2 linked regions of the Homo sapiens genome follow. The protein of the gene in region 1 interacts with the protein of each later gene in a biochemical or structural test. Each region holds a gene or a part of one and is shown in the gene's direction. Other genes may lie near its edges.

Region 1 (6,700 bases):
GGGAAGGGGCGCCTGTCGTCGGAGCGGGGGGATGACACGAGGGCCCGCCGACAGCCCTGGGGGACGAGTTGCTCCCCCAGACGTCTGGAGGGGGACTCTTACCCCAGGGGCAGGTGGCCGCCTTCTGACGACTCCTTGGAAGAGGCGGGGAGCCGCCTCTGGGGCAGGAGGGTGGGAAGCGGGACCCAGCAGCTGGGGCGGGAAGGTGGGCGGGGGGAGCTGGGCCGCGAGACGCGGGGGCCGCGCGTCTGGAGCCGGGGCCTGTGGGGGCTGCACGTCTGGGAACCCGTGGAGACGCGCGGCGGGAGGGGCCTGGAGCTGCCGGAAGCCACGGGGAGGGGGCGCCGCGTCTACAGGGAGAGACGGGGTGGTCTGAGGTCCCGTGGGCCGCGTGGGCGGGAAGTGCCGAGGGCTCGGCCGGGTTCCCGGGGGCTGCCGGCGGGAGGAGGGCGGCGGCCGGGTTTCCGCGGGGACCTGGCTCCTCCTCCCGCATCTGAGGCGGAGGCCGGGGGTGGGCCGGGAGCGGGTGCGCCCGGGGAGCTTCTCGTCCCCGAGTGACCCAGCCCCGGCCTCCGCCAGGGGCGGGAGCGAGGCCCGGCCCCGCTGTCGGTTCCTAAGGGAACGGCGGCTCGCGGGGAGCTGGAAGGGGCGGGCGCCTCCCGGAGCCTGGCGCCCGCAGCCCCGCCCCTCCCCGCGGGCCCGGCGCGCACGGCCGGGCGGTTGGCGGCGGCGCCCGCGGCCCCTCCCCCGGGTCGGGCGCGGGCGGGGGCCCGCAAGCTCAGGAAGTAGGGGAAAGGTGACGGCGCGGCAATTCCCAGTTCACGTTTCCTGCGCCTCCCGGAGCAGCCGCTGATCACGCTTTGTTCACATGCCTCGCCCCCTCCTCGCCCACGCCCCCGCCCCGGGCCGCACAGCCAATCCGGGCTCGGGCCGCCGAGCCGGCCGGCCAATGGCGGGGGCAGGGGCGCGGGGACGTGCGAGCGGCGAGGAATGTTCCCAGTGACTCACCCGTGAGCCTCATTGAGGTTAGGGCGGCCCCATCCGTCGGTCTCCGCCAGCTAGGATCTCCCCCGCCGTCCGCCCCCGCCCCTCGTCTGCCTCCCCCGCCCGCGCCTCCGCCCGCGCTTCCCTTTCCTGCCTCGCGCCCCACTCCCTTTCCTCCCCTCCCTGTTTCCCTTCCTGTCCTTCCCAGCTCACGCTCTCTTTCCCTGCCGCCTGCCTTTCTTTTTTCCTTTTTTTGCATTGGCGTCTTGGGGCTGTTACACACACGCGCGCTGTCCATTGCAGCTTACATAAAGGCGGGCGCGATTATGCAATTATATTGTTAGCGATATTTCAAGAGCAATGGCTCGTTTTCTTAGGATTTCAACACGAAGGCATCATGCATTTTTGAAAAACTAGTATTGAGAATAATACCTTGCAACGTAAAGAATGTTTTTTGGTATTTTTACACAATCTCTACTTTGACCAAACGAGTCTGGACAGTTTTCTTTTAATGGAAAATAGGAGAAATGGTGAGTAGTACCATTTTTTTTTAGCGTAGTTCAAAGAACTTTACTATAAAACATTAGGTAGTTCTACAAATAAGTGCAAAACCTGTGCTGTTATTTTGTCATCAAGCAGTTCTTTAAGGAATTAAAATAGATTCTACTTTGATTATGCTGACTTTTTAAAGTCGGTTTTTGCAAATTCCAAGTAGAATATTAAATTTTTTGATTATCCAGTTTTTAGTAATATTGCATTAGCTATGTTGTAGTTATGTATGGCAAACCATTGTGTCAAATAGATTCAGTAAAAGGGAGCACAAATATGAAGAGGTTGAAAGTTAATTAAAATAAACATTAGAATTTTTTTCTATGTATATCACTTGATTTTTCTTTACCATAATCAAGTGATCAAATTTTAGATCTTAAATAATGCAATTTTAACTTGAAAGATACCCTGAGGATCCCTTATCTTTTGATTTTTATCCCAAAGTGCAAAGTGACTTTCCAAAGGTCAGACCCATAACAACAGGCCAGAGCTCTACTACATTTTGTCTTTATTAGAAGGTTTTGGCTATTTTTTTTTTCTATCAGCAATTTGTACCTCAAAAGACCTCATACCATACCTGTAATATTTAAGAAGATAAATTTTTTGCCGCACTCTTAGTTTTTTTGCCCGACTCCAGTTGCAGGTAGCTACTCTGGAAAGTCTATATAAAATACTCCTTTTCTTCTTAGCCAAATACTTCTCCTTTTGGATCACAAATGCATTGATAATTTTCGTCTTAGTCCCCTTAATGGTAGTAGGTGTGCCTCTCTCCCATGAACGGATATCGCTTTATCAGTGTTAAAGTCTAAATGTTAACAGAAAAAATGAGGAAGATTTTATTGCCACTACTGTGAGGTTTGGGTTACCTACCTAACAAGTGTAGCTGAACTTCCTTAGTATCATAGTAAGTGTGAGAGGAAAATTATTTCTGATTTTAATTTGGAAAGTTGTGTGAGTTGTAAAAAAAAAAAAAAAAAAAATTTGCTCATTTTTCTGTGTGTCATTTGGATGACAAAAAATATGCTTATAAGCTTTCCTCTTTTGTTTTTATAGGAGGAAAGAATGGAAATGATTTCTGAAAGGCCAAAAGAGAGTATGTATTCCTGGAACAAAACTGCAGAGAAAAGTGATTTTGAAGCTGTAGAAGCACTTATGTCAATGAGCTGCAGTTGGAAGTCTGATTTTAAGAAATACGTTGAAAACAGACCTGTTACACCAGTATCTGATTTGTCAGAGGAAGAGAATCTGCTTCCGGGAACACCTGATTTTCATACAATCCCAGCATTTGTAAGTATTATTGTTTTTAAGATAGACGTAAATTATATAATTTCTTAAAATTTATATAATAAACTGTAGATTTCTCATGCTATGTATTTCCCTTTTCTTTAGTGTTTGACTCCACCTTACAGTCCTTCTGACTTTGAACCCTCTCAAGTGTCAAATCTGATGGCACCAGCGCCATCTACTGTACACTTCAAGTCACTCTCAGATACTGCCAAACCTCACATTGCCGCACCTTTCAAAGAGGAAGAAAAGAGCCCAGTATCTGCCCCCAAACTCCCCAAAGCTCAGGCAACAAGTGTGATTCGTCATACAGCTGATGCCCAGCTATGTAACCACCAGACCTGCCCAATGAAAGCAGCCAGCATCCTCAACTATCAGAACAATTCTTTTAGAAGAAGAACCCACCTAAATGTTGAGGCTGCAAGAAAGAACATACCATGTGCCGCTGTGTCACCAAACAGATCCAAATGTGAGAGAAACACAGTGGCAGATGTTGATGAGAAAGCAAGTGCTGCACTTTATGACTTTTCTGTGCCTTCCTCAGAGACGGTCATCTGCAGGTCTCAGCCAGCCCCTGTGTCCCCACAACAGAAGTCAGTGTTGGTCTCTCCACCTGCAGTATCTGCAGGGGGAGTGCCACCTATGCCGGTCATCTGCCAGATGGTTCCCCTTCCTGCCAACAACCCTGTTGTGACAACAGTCGTTCCCAGCACTCCTCCCAGCCAGCCACCAGCCGTTTGCCCCCCTGTTGTGTTCATGGGCACACAAGTCCCCAAAGGCGCTGTCATGTTTGTGGTACCCCAGCCCGTTGTGCAGAGTTCAAAGCCTCCGGTGGTGAGCCCGAATGGCACCAGACTCTCTCCCATTGCCCCTGCTCCTGGGTTTTCCCCTTCAGCAGCAAAAGTCACTCCTCAGATTGATTCATCAAGGATAAGGAGTCACATCTGTAGCCACCCAGGATGTGGCAAGACATACTTTAAAAGTTCCCATCTGAAGGCCCACACGAGGACGCACACAGGTACCAGCCACTTCTTATATCTTTAGTGTTTAAATGAAGAGATTTTGGCTGTGATCACACATTTAAACCCAGGATGATAAGGAATAACTTGCCTTTAGCTAGTTTAGAGGATGGTATTTACCAGTGCAAGGTCCTCCAAAAGGCTGTATTGGAGGCCGCTCACGAGTGCCATAATCCTTGCACTTTAGGAGACCAAGGTGGGAGGATTGTTTGAGCATAGGAGTTCAAAACCAGCCTGTGCAACATACTGAGACCTCATCTCTACAAATAATTTAAAAATAAGTATGTAAATACTTTATTGATGTGCTTTTGTTTCAGTCTCTCAAATGATGATTCTGTAGATGTCTGAGTAGTTACTTTAATAAGGTATCTTTAAAGCCTTTGAATCATAGTTAAAGTCAGGAAGTCTTTTCATTTTTGGCTTTTTTTAAGGGATGAAAAAAAACTGCTCTGTTGCCCAAACTGGTCTCAAACTTCTGGGCTCAAGCTATCCTCCTGCCCCAGCCTTCTGAGTAGTTGGGACTACAGGTGCCTACTACTCCACCCGGCTGCCTTATTTCATGTGGGGAAGAGTTTTGTAAATGTGATCAAGTGACAAGTTGAAATTGGAGCAATACATATCTCATATTCATTTGACAGTTTGATTTATTAGCTTTTATTATTTAAAATGTATCTTCTCATATACTTTTAGACAGAATTGAACATATAATTTACGGCAATCTTATGCATAATAATGATTTGTATGTCTTTGTTTTAGGAGAAAAGCCTTTCAGCTGTAGCTGGAAAGGTTGTGAAAGGAGGTTTGCCCGTTCTGATGAACTGTCCAGACACAGGCGAACCCACACGGGTGAGAAGAAATTTGCGTGCCCCATGTGTGACCGGCGGTTCATGAGGAGTGACCATTTGACCAAGCATGCCCGGCGCCATCTATCAGCCAAGAAGCTACCAAACTGGCAGATGGAAGTGAGCAAGCTAAATGACATTGCTCTACCTCCAACCCCTGCTCCCACACAGTGACAGACCGGAAAGTGAAGAGTCAGAACTAACTTTGGTCTCAGCGGGAGCCAGTGGTGATGTAAAAATGCTTCCACTGCAAGTCTGTGGCCCCACAACGTGGGCTTAAAGCAGAAGCCCCACAGCCTGGCACGAAGGCCCCGCCTGGGTTAGGTGACTAAAAGGGCTTCGGCCACAGGCAGGTCACAGAAAGGCAGGTTTCATTTCTTATCACATAAGAGAGATGAGAAAGCTTTTATTCCTTTGAATATTTTTTGAAGGTTTCAGATGAGGTCAACACAGGTAGCACAGATTTTGAATCTGTGTGCATATTTGTTACTTTACTTTTGCTGTTTATACTTGAGACCAACTTTTCAATGTGATTCTTCTAAAGCACTGGTTTCAAGAATATGGAGGCTGGAAGGAAATAAACATTACGGTACAGACATGGAGATGTAAAATGAGTTTGTATTATTACAAATATTGTCATCTTTTTCTAGAGTTATCTTCTTTATTATTCCTAGTCTTTCCAGTCAACATCGTGGATGTAGTGATTAAATATATCTAGAACTATCATTTTTACACTATTGTGAATATTTGGAATTGAACGACTGTATATTGCTAAGAGGGCCCAAAGAATTGGAATCCTCCTTAATTTAATTGCTTTGAAGCATAGCTACAATTTGTTTTTGCATTTTTGTTTTGAAAGTTTAACAAATGACTGTATCTAGGCATTTCATTATGCTTTGAACTTTAGTTTGCCTGCAGTTTCTTGTGTAGATTTGAAAATTGTATACCAATGTGTTTTCTGTAGACTCTAAGATACACTGCACTTTGTTTAGAAAAAAAACTGAAGATGAAATATATATTGTAAAGAAGGGATATTAAGAATCTTAGATAACTTCTTGAAAAAGATGGCTTATGTCATCAGTAAAGTACCTTTATGTTATGAGGATATAATGTGTGCTTTATTGAATTAGAAAATTAGTGACCATTATTCACAGGTGGACAAATGTTGATGTTGTCCTGTTAATTTATAGGCGTTTTTTGGGGATGTGGAGGTAGTTGGGTAGAAAAATTATTAGAACATTCACTTTTGTTAACAGTATTTCTCTTTTATTCTGTTATATAGTGGATGATATACACAGTGGCAAAACAAAAGTACATTGCTTAAAATATATAGTGAAAAATGTCACTATATCTTCCCATTTAACATTGTTTTTGTATATTGGGTGTAGATTTCTGACATCAAAACTTGGACCCTTGGAAAACAAAAGTTTTAATTAAAAAAAATCCTTGTGACTTACAATTTGCACAATATTTCTTTTGTTGTACTTTATATCTTGTTTACAATAAAGAATTCCCTTTGGTATATGGAATGGTCATTGCATTTCTTAAAAACCATTCTCAACTCTCACCTTGACATTGATCACTTATATTATCCAAGGACTTAGTGTCTGAATTTCTCTAAGGGTCTCATTCAAATTTAGAACTGTAGGAGTATGTCTTTAACATGAATCCATTTAGAGAGTATACAAAGTGAGGCCAAATATCTATTTGGTGAGGTAATATGTGAACCAGCCAGTTCTAAGAAAACACATTTAATTTTTAAACATTGTTTTTTATTTTTCAAGACACAGTTTCACTCTGTCACCCAGGCTGGAGTGCAGTGGCATGATCTCAGCTCACTACAACCTCCACCTCCCAGATTCAAGTGATTCTCCTACCTCAGCCTCCAGAGTAGCTGGGATTACAGGTGTGCACCACCATGCCCGGCTAATTTTTATATTAGTAGAGACGGGGTTTCGCCGTGTTGGTCAGGCTGGTCTCAAACTCCTGACCTCAAGTGATCCGCCCATCTTGGCCTCCCAA
Region 2 (9,258 bases), on another chromosome or scaffold:
CATTTCTTACAGCGAAGTGGGCAAGGTTGATTCTTGCTGCTTAAGGGAAGTACGTTTCTCTTAGTGCAAAGAGGCCTGCAGAAGTTATAACAGGGCTGGTTAGAGCCAAGGTTTTAATTCTTGAATAATAGGTCATGTTTCACACTGTAGTAATGTAGCTTCATGTCACATGCTAGGAAGGGTGAATATGAATATTGCACATTTGCATAATGGGATTTTATTCAGAAATTGGGTAACTTGACTAAGTTCTTAGTAACCAAAACGTGGGGAGTCAGGTTCCTGGGAGGTGTCCTCCATGTTGGTATTGTGGTATACCAGGGCTGGGGTAAATCCTTTATCTTGTTTTCTTGTTCTTTGCCTTTTAGAGGGCCCTTTTTCTGAAAAGATAGTGTTGCTCTGGTTAGGCTTGGCTACCCATTTCCTCATCTTGGCTAGAATATTAATGGTAATCTTTGCAAAATGTGTGATCGAATTGCCTTTTTCTCACTCTGAATGTCAGACAGACATGATGGCCACCATTTTGTATTGAGAGTGCTACATAGTACAGCCTGAGGAAAGGGGTTAAAGAGGCACCAATAATCTACAAATACAACCAGTACTCTGTTTGGAGACCTCCTTTGTGTGGAGGGGACTTGCTTCCTCCTTTGTTTAACAAACTCCTTTGCCAAATGGAAAGAGTTTGAGAGTATTTGTTGTTGATATAACCACAAAAAGGGAAATCTTTCCAGAAGTTGTAGCTCTTGAAGAGGGGTCTTGTTGGAACAAAGGCTTCTTAAGAGATGTAAACAGTCTTTGTTTTAGAAACTGTTTTGTTTTTGGGAAAGCTAACTGTGAACAAGTGGTTTCATATAGTTGATATATAGCAACAAAAAAACCCTTCAAGAAGTGTGAAATATTTTCCATGGTGATATATATAATGTCTGTATTTCTGGATGATTTTTGTTCACCGAGTTTTTGGAACACAAATGGTTATATTAGAAGGGGAATTGGAACTATTGGTATTTTACTTGTTAGAAGGTAAGGAGAAGTATAAAACATTTCTGTCTCCTTTTGTTCTTACCTTTGTATCTTTACCAATGGTACTTAATATAGTTTCAGTTTATAGCTGCTTTCTCAGTGAGACTCCCAAACTGCTTGGCTTCTGAAAACTTAGAGTACTTACATTATTTTGTATATGGCAGCTTAGGGGTTCTCAGAAATTTGAAAATATAGTAAGATAAATGTGAGAAAACGTGATTAAGTCAAGAAGACTATACTTCAAATCTGAGTTTGAAGTTTAATACAAACCTTTGTTTCAAATTATATCAACTATGTAGGATAACCAGGCTTGTTTTCTGGACCAAAACCTTCTTAAATTTACAATTCATCTGGCTTCTGGTTTTGTCACCTTTAAAATGCAAATTTTTAATTTCCTCCATGATACTGTACTTAGATGTCTGTTTAAGGACAAATGATATTTTTCCATATCACTTTGTGGTATTTGGAGATGAGTAATTTTAAGGGTGTAACTATTAGGCAGAAAAATAGTTGGCTGCTCAGTAAATACTTTTTTGTCTCCCAAATTTTGATAGGAATATATTTATGGCTTTAGTAACTTATTTTCTTGCTTTCAAATGTCTCACATTTGGCCATAGATAGATTCCACAAATTTCTTTTTTTTTTTTTTTTTGAGACGGAATTTTGCTCTTGTTGCCCAGGCCTGGAGTGCAGTGGCTCATCACAACCTCTGCCTCCCGACCTCAGGTGATCCATGCGCCTCGGCCTCCCAAAGTGCTGGGATTACAGGCGTGAGCCACCGTGCCGGGCCTAGATTCCACAGATTTCTTCTTTGTGTCCGGAGAAGGTTTAAATCAAACCCCAGAGGCCACAAGAGACAAAAATTTTTCAGCTTTAACTTCTTGTGGTTACTAGTTTGATTCCTTCATCTTTATAGCCAAGTGTAAAACTGCCCTTAAATGTTTTAATACAGTCACCATTTTTGAGTGAGCCTGTTGGTTCCACTCCTAGAGAAGAGGGAGGAACTTATACACTTCTTTGTATGGTAGAAGTGTTAATGATATGGAGCTCATTTACTCCCTTTCCAGCGTATCATTCTCCCTAATTTGGGGTTTGATCGACTTAGGCCTAACCCTCTCTCTGTTTTCCCTATTTCTTTGGTGTCATGAAATCTTTCCCTACTTGTATCTTTGGCCACTTTAAGCCTTTAACGTTTAGAGAAGAGGCTTATCAGTAGAAACATCCTTGAGCAAAGGAAGAACTTATAACTACTTAAAAAAAAAACCCTTTTATTGAAATATACCATACAATTCACGAATTTATGATGTGTAATTCAGTGGTTTTTGATATTTTCAGAGTTGTACAACCATCACCACAATCAATTGTAGAACATTTTCATCTCCCTCAAAAGAAACCCTGAACTCACTTGTAACTACTTTTTTTTTCCTTTTTTTAAATTATACTTTAAGTTCTAGGGTACATGTGTACAACGTGCAGGTTTGTTACATATGTACACATGTGCCATGTTGGTGTGCTGCACCCATTAACTCATCATTTACATTAGGTATATCTCCTAATGCTTTCCCTCCCCCCTCCCCCGACCCCTAACTACCTTTTAAGACAAATTTAGGACTATAATGCCCAGGAGAAAAACCTGGTAGGAGGTTGGATTAAGTCCTACAGTTCTAGGCCACAAATGTCTACCTTTTTTTTTTGAGATGGAGTTTTGCTGTTGTTGCCCAGGCTGGAGTGCCATGGCGCAACGTCATGTTGCTCACTGCAACATCCGCCTCCCGGGTTCAAGCGATTCTCCTGCCTCAGCCTCCTGAGTAGCTGGGTGGGCATGCACCGCCACGCCCGGCTAACTTTGTATTTTTAGTAGAGACGAGGTTTCACCATGTTGGTTAGGCTGGTCTTGAACTCCTGACCTCAGGTGATCCACCCACCTCGGCCTCCCAAAGTGCTGGGATTACAGACGTGAGCCACCGCACCTAGGCCACAAATGTCTACCTTAAAGCTAAAACAAACTTCATTTGTTGTAGTTATTGAATGGGTGTTTAGCTAAATTTGACTTTGCCAGTGGTAAATTGGGCACATTAGTAGCCACAAACATATCTACCCAGTTGTAATTCTTAGTGAACTAATAAACAAAACGTGTAGACTTTAAGAATGTAATGTGAATGATATTGCAAATATGAGTCAGCTAAAGATTTGAGTCCCCACCCCCACTGGAAAAATTTCCTTCCCTTCCTATGGTTATAGGGTATGGTTTTAAACATGCAATCTAAACTTTTAAAAGAGCGAAATGAGTAGAGAATTACCTTTGAAAAACATTAATAAACATTCTCTATTAAAAGCCAGGGCCTGAAATTTCCTTTTTTTTTTAATCTCACTCTGTCATCCAGGCTGGCATGCAGTGTTGCAATCAAGGCTCCCTGCAGCTTCCACTTCTTGGGCTCAAGTGCTCCTCCCTCCTCAGCCTCTAATAAATTGTAGGGATGCGGTTTCTCAGTATGTTGCCCAGGCTGGTCTTGAACTCCTGGCTTCAAGCAGTTCTCCCGCTTTGGCCTCCCAAAGTGCTGGGATTACAGGCATGGGCCAGTGCACCTGGCCTGAATTATTTTGTTGAGACACTGATAAGAAAAATTAAGAGAAAATTATTAAACCTTAATTTTATTCTTTCTCTGTTTCTAGGGTAATTTTCTTTATGACCTGTTGGCCTAGACTTAGAGTATTAGAGTATTTCAGGTTGATAGATTAGTGAAAAATGTGTTTACTGGTTTACATTTATAAGTGGGTAGAAATCTGCCAGTGGGGGAATTTTCTCTTGGGTAAAAAAATACAGGGCTGGGCATAGTGGCTCGTGCCTGTAATCCCAGCACTTTTGGGAGGCCTAAGTGGGCGGATCGCTTGAGGTCAGGAGTTCAAGACCAGCCTGGCCAACATAGCGAAACCCTGTCTCTACTAAAAATATAAAAATTAGCTGGGCATGGTGGCAGGCGCCTGCAATCCCAGCTACTCGGGAGGCTGAGGCAGGAGAATTGCTTGAACCCAGGAGGCAGAGGTTGCAGTGAGCCGAGATCACTCCATTGCACTCTAGCCTGGGCAACAGGCTCAAAAAAGAAAACAAACACAACAACAACAACAACAAACAACAACAACAAAAAAACAGTGTAAACTATTTGATTAAAAAAAATGAACCCTGTTTAAATGCTGTAATGGGACCTTTTTGTAGACTTTTGTAACCTTTCATTGTTGCCTTAATTGGACCCCATTAAGGTTGGCTGTAGAAAAGGATAAGGGAAAGCCCGTGCCCCTAAAATGAAAGTGCTAATTAGGTTTCTGGTGTTCAGGGTTTTTTGAAGCCTATGCGTGTACTTCTTTCCAAATGCCATCTATAGGTTTGAAAAACTACTAACCTAGGAGTACCTTGCTTTCATCCTTGGACAGTCCTCTCAGTGTTGAGATTGTTGTGCAATTTTTTTTTCTCTAAGAGAATTTGGTATTTTCTAATATACCTGTTATAGTACAGATCATTGGCAGCCTCAAAAAAAAAAAAAGATGGAATGAAGGTTGGGAACTGGAGGGCTACACATTCTCAAATTTAAGTTTGGGTCTCTTGAAGGGGACTCACCAGAGGGCGTACCGACAAGTCTCTTTGGGGTGAGTGGGTGGGTGAGTTGATACCTTGGGAAAGCCATATTCTTAGGCTGCTGCCATTGACTTTTGATTATTTAAAGTTTGAGATACTAATAACTGGATTTATAAAATCCAGATTGTGAGAAACTTGTTTTAGACATAAGAATGGTATGCAATTGAGAAGTATTTCTTAAGTATTTATTAACTGCTGTGTCCTTGCATGGGATTAAAGAGGAAAAATTAATATGAAAATTAAATGAAAATTGTAAATAAAAATTAAATGAAAAATTAAATTGTACACTTCCACAAATTCATTCAGAAATGTTTCTTTTTCTGTCATTATTAGATGAATTCTTTGAATTTGCTTTTTACAACCAAGTTTATGAACCAGATTAATGAAGAAAAGATGTCTCTAGGACAGTGAGGCATTTCAGTTCCATAATTGTAGGATGTTTGGAACAAAGATGCAGAATTTGACTGGAATGCATTCTTTTAAGTCCTCTACCCCCCACCATGATTTAAGACACTCAGTCCTTTAACTGTAGACCATCCTTCTTAAAGCACCATCAGCATATATCTTTACACATGGCCTTAGAGTCATCCCATATGTGCTGCTGCTGCTTTTTTTTTTTAAGCATTTAAGCTTTCTTTCGGATATAAAAACTAATCATTTTGTTCTGCCAGACCCGTCACTTCAGGGAGTAAATTAAAAAATTTTATTACAAAAAATGTGAAGCATACACAAAAGTGTAAAGAATAGTTACTTTAGCTATTTTCCTGGATAGAAGAGCAGAAAGTGGAGTAGCAGCATTGGAGTTGAGACAAAACTAGGGATCTTCATTTGTAAAGAACAGCTTAGCTTAGCTTTTGTCCTATTCAGGTTATAAGTGACATTTGGGCAATTATGAGGTGAGCTTTCTAGCCTTCAGTCAGTGATGGTCATTTTGCCCAATTAGGTTGGGGATAGTATTTCTCAGTTTTAGTCAATGGCTTTGTTGCTTTGTTACACATTTGTTGGGACATGTCAAGTAACTTGACCAGCTGCAGGTCTGTTGGCACATGGAGGTGTTGGAGTCGGTTGGTGGGTGGAGGTTAGTCTCTGCTAACATCACTTCATTTCTTTATCTGTTCATTTTTGTATTGGCCAGACTTTATCTGAACTTTCTTTTCTTAGGAAGGGGCCTTCTGGTCAGAGTGGGTATTTAGCCTGACAAAACAGAGCTGACATCAGTAGTAACCAAGAAACAGAATGATGTTCTAGCCAGGCATGGTGGCTCTCACCTGTAATTCCAGCACTTTGGGAGGCTCCAGGCAGGAGGATCGCTTGAGGTCAGGCGTTTGAGATCAGCCTGGGAAACATAGTGAGACCCTATCTCTACAAAAGACAAAAAATTAGCTGGGAATGGTGACGTGCACCTGTAGTCCCAGCTGCTCGGGAGGCCAAGGTGGGAGGATGGCTTGAGCTCAGAAGTTCCAGGTTGCGGTGAGCCCTGATCACGCCACTGCACTCCAGCCTGGGCAACAGAGCAAGACGTTTCAAAAACAAACAAAACAAAATGGCTGGGTGCGGTGGCTCACACCTGTAATCTCAGCACTTTGGGAGGCCGAGGCAGGTGGATCATGAGGTCAAGAGATTGAGACCATCCTGGCCAACATGGTGAAACCCTGTCTCTACCAAAAGTACAAAATTAGCTGGGCGTGGTGGTACGCACCTGTAGTCCCAAGCTACTCGGGAGGCTGAGGCATGAGAATCACTTGAACCTGGGAGGTGGAGATTGCAGTGAGCCGATATCGCACCACTGCACTCCAGCCTGGTGACAGAGCAAGACTCCGTCTCAAAAAACAAAAACAAAACAAAAGTCCCTTTCTGGAAAAGAAGTTTTAGGGAAATGAGAATTTGAAGAGTCTGATGAATTACTTGTTAGATTGTTAGGTTCAATTTAAAAATTAGGTCATTGGAAAATATTTTCTATTAATGTCCCTTAAAATCTAAAGACTTCTCCCTGCTTCCTTGAAATAATAACTTCATTTCTGAGATAGGAGATGCCACCAGGCAGGTGGTCACATAATGACCTTTTAGAACTTGTTGATTTCATTTCACATGGTAATCTCTTGTAAAATGCTGTGAAATTTAACTATTATTTTGCAGGGATAAAAAAGAGGTTTATCAAGGGGACTGTGTGTATGTATATTTTTATTTATCACGTTTTTTTCTTTTTTAAAAATTACTTTTTTTTTTTTTGAGATGGAGTTTCACGCTTGTCACCCAGGCTGGAGTGCATGCAGTGGCGTGATCTCGGCTCACCGCAACTTCCGCCTCCCAGGTTCAAGTAATTCTCCTGCCTCAGCCTTCCTAGTAGCTGGGATTACAGGCACCTGCCACCACACCCGGCTAATTTTGTATTTTTAGTAGAGATGGGGTTTCTCCATCTTGGTCAGGCTGGTCTCGAACTCCCGACCTCAGGTGACCCGCCCACCTCGGCCTCCCAAAGTGCTGGGATTACAGGCGCGAGCCACCGCGCCCGGGTTAAAATTACTTTTCAAAAGCCAGTTCCTCTATTATGTAAAAGAGGACAGGAGGGGTATTTTCTAGATTTTAAAAAATAGGTGGGTAGAGTCTTCAATCTAGTTACATCATGACCTTGGACAAAGTCATTTTTCTGCAACGTATGCTTGTCATCTGCTCTAAGGGGATCTGACACTGACCTAGGGCTGCTGTCCAGACTAATTAATTGATGGATTGCAAGGAGCTTAAATCCCAAAGCTTTATTTGCTCATTGCTAAGAAGAGTCTGGGGACAGATTTAGTGAGACAAGGGTTAGTGCCAAGTACACATCCCTCATTTTCCCATATAGTGAAGGGATTTCCCCTTGTCCCCCGGGGACAGAGTCTTGCTCTGTTGCCCAGGCTGGAGTGCAGTGGTGCAATCATAGTTCATTGCAGCCTTGACCTCATGAGCTCAAGCCGTCCTCTCACCTCGGCCTCCTGAATAGCTGGGACCACAGGTATACATGCCACCACACCCAGAATTATTATTTTTTTTTAGGGACAGGGTCTTGCTGTGTTGCCGAGGCTGGTTCGAACTCCTGGCCTTAAGCCATCCTCCCACCTCAGCTTCCCAAAGTGCTGGGACTACAGGCATGAGCCACTGCACCTGGCTGTGAAGGGATTGTTTTCTTTTTTTCTTGTTTTGTTGCCCAAACTGTAATGCAGTGGCACAATCACAGCTCCTTGGAGCCTCGAACTCCTGGGCTCAAATGATCCCACCTCAGCCCCCCATTTAGTTGAGATTACAGGCACACACCACCATGCCTGGCTAATTTTTCAAATTTTTTTGTAGAGATGGTGTCTCACTATGTTAGCCAGGCTGGCCATGAAGGGATGTTTTAAAAGTGAAACTTGAAAAGGCAAACCGCACCCCGCAACCCCAAAAAAAGGCAAAAACCCATCATCAAAACCAGAGTATAGCCAGCATAGTGGCTCACACCTGTAATCCCAGCACTTGGGGAGGTGCAGGTGGGAGGATTGCTTGAGCACAGGAATTTGAAACCAGCCTGGGCAACATAGCAGACCCTATCTGTACAAAAAAAAAAAAAAAAGACAAAAACCAATCGAACAAAAAAAACCCTAGAATATATAGACTATAATCCTTCAATTGGTTTAGACAAAGCTTTTCTGTCCCTGAATCTTTATTTTTTTTGAGACAGGGTCTCACTATGTTGCCAGGCTGGAGTGCAGCATGATGTGATCTTGGCTCACTGCAAACTCCGCCTTCTGGGCTCAAGTCATCCTTCCACCTCAGCCTCCCTAGTAGCTGGGACTGGGACTACAGGTGCATACCATCATGCCCAGCTAGTTTTTGTATTTATTTTAATAGAGACGGGGTTCACCATGCTGCCTAGGCTGGTCTTGAACTCCTGAGCTCAAGCAGTCCACCTGCCTAGGCCTCCCAGAGTGCTGGGATTACAGGCACAAGCCACTATGCCCGGCCTGTCCCTAAACAGATTAGTGAGATTAACATGTTTTAAAAGGTAGAGCTGTTAAAAATTATTTCAGAAAATTTGCAGGTGCATTTGTGTGTCTTATGTAGTGCATGTATATAGGCAGGAGTTTAGTTTGGTGAGATTTGTATTAAGAAGGGTTTACAGTGATTTAAATTTCCCCTAATATGGGATGACTGTGACATTGTGGAAGCCACGCAAATAGAAGGATATTGTACTTACTAACATAATTTAAATAATCTCAATTCATGTCTGACAGGAGGGGTCAATAGTTGAAGTCTAGTAATTTTGCAATTATCCTACTTGTAAAGTGGGGAGAAAAGTAGAAGTGGCAGGAAAAATGTTTACCTAGATCTTTTAAGAAAATATTTTAGGACAAGAGCCACCATCATATTTTATTCTTTTATTTATTTATTTATTGAAGTTAATTATATTTAGACTTAAGGAATTAACAAAGGAGCAGGGAGACTAGACCAGGTCCCAGGATATCTTGACTCCTTGGGGCAGGCCCAGCTACAGCAAGCACAGAGGGAAACATAGGGGAGGGGCAGATAGCAGATTTGGTCTTGAACTTGGAGGGTAGGAAATGGATGATCCCCAGGATGGAAGCAGCAGGAGGAAG

What was found. The genes of interacting proteins can lie anywhere in the genome.
Region 2: the proteins of KLF10 (region 1) and KDM5B form a complex in vitro, tested with the Homo sapiens proteins (one study listed by BioGRID).

Annotation. Positions count from the first base shown.
Region 1 is NC_000008.11:102,648,284-102,654,983, reverse strand, and holds the end of KLF10 (Krueppel-like factor 10), read left to right. Parts: intron 1-1,240; exon of another isoform or gene 1,241-1,511; coding exon of another isoform or gene 1,512-1,514; intron 1,515-2,586; coding exon 2,587-2,820; intron 2,821-2,922; coding exon 2,923-3,835; intron 3,836-4,592; coding exon 4,593-4,852; 3' UTR 4,853-6,200; downstream 6,201-6,700.
Region 2 is NC_000001.11:202,797,277-202,806,534, reverse strand, and holds part of KDM5B (lysine-specific demethylase 5B), read left to right. Parts: intron 1-9,258. UniProt on the Homo sapiens protein: Histone demethylase that demethylates 'Lys-4' of histone H3, thereby playing a central role in histone code. Does not demethylate histone H3 'Lys-9' or H3 'Lys-27'. Demethylates trimethylated, dimethylated and monomethylated H3 'Lys-4'.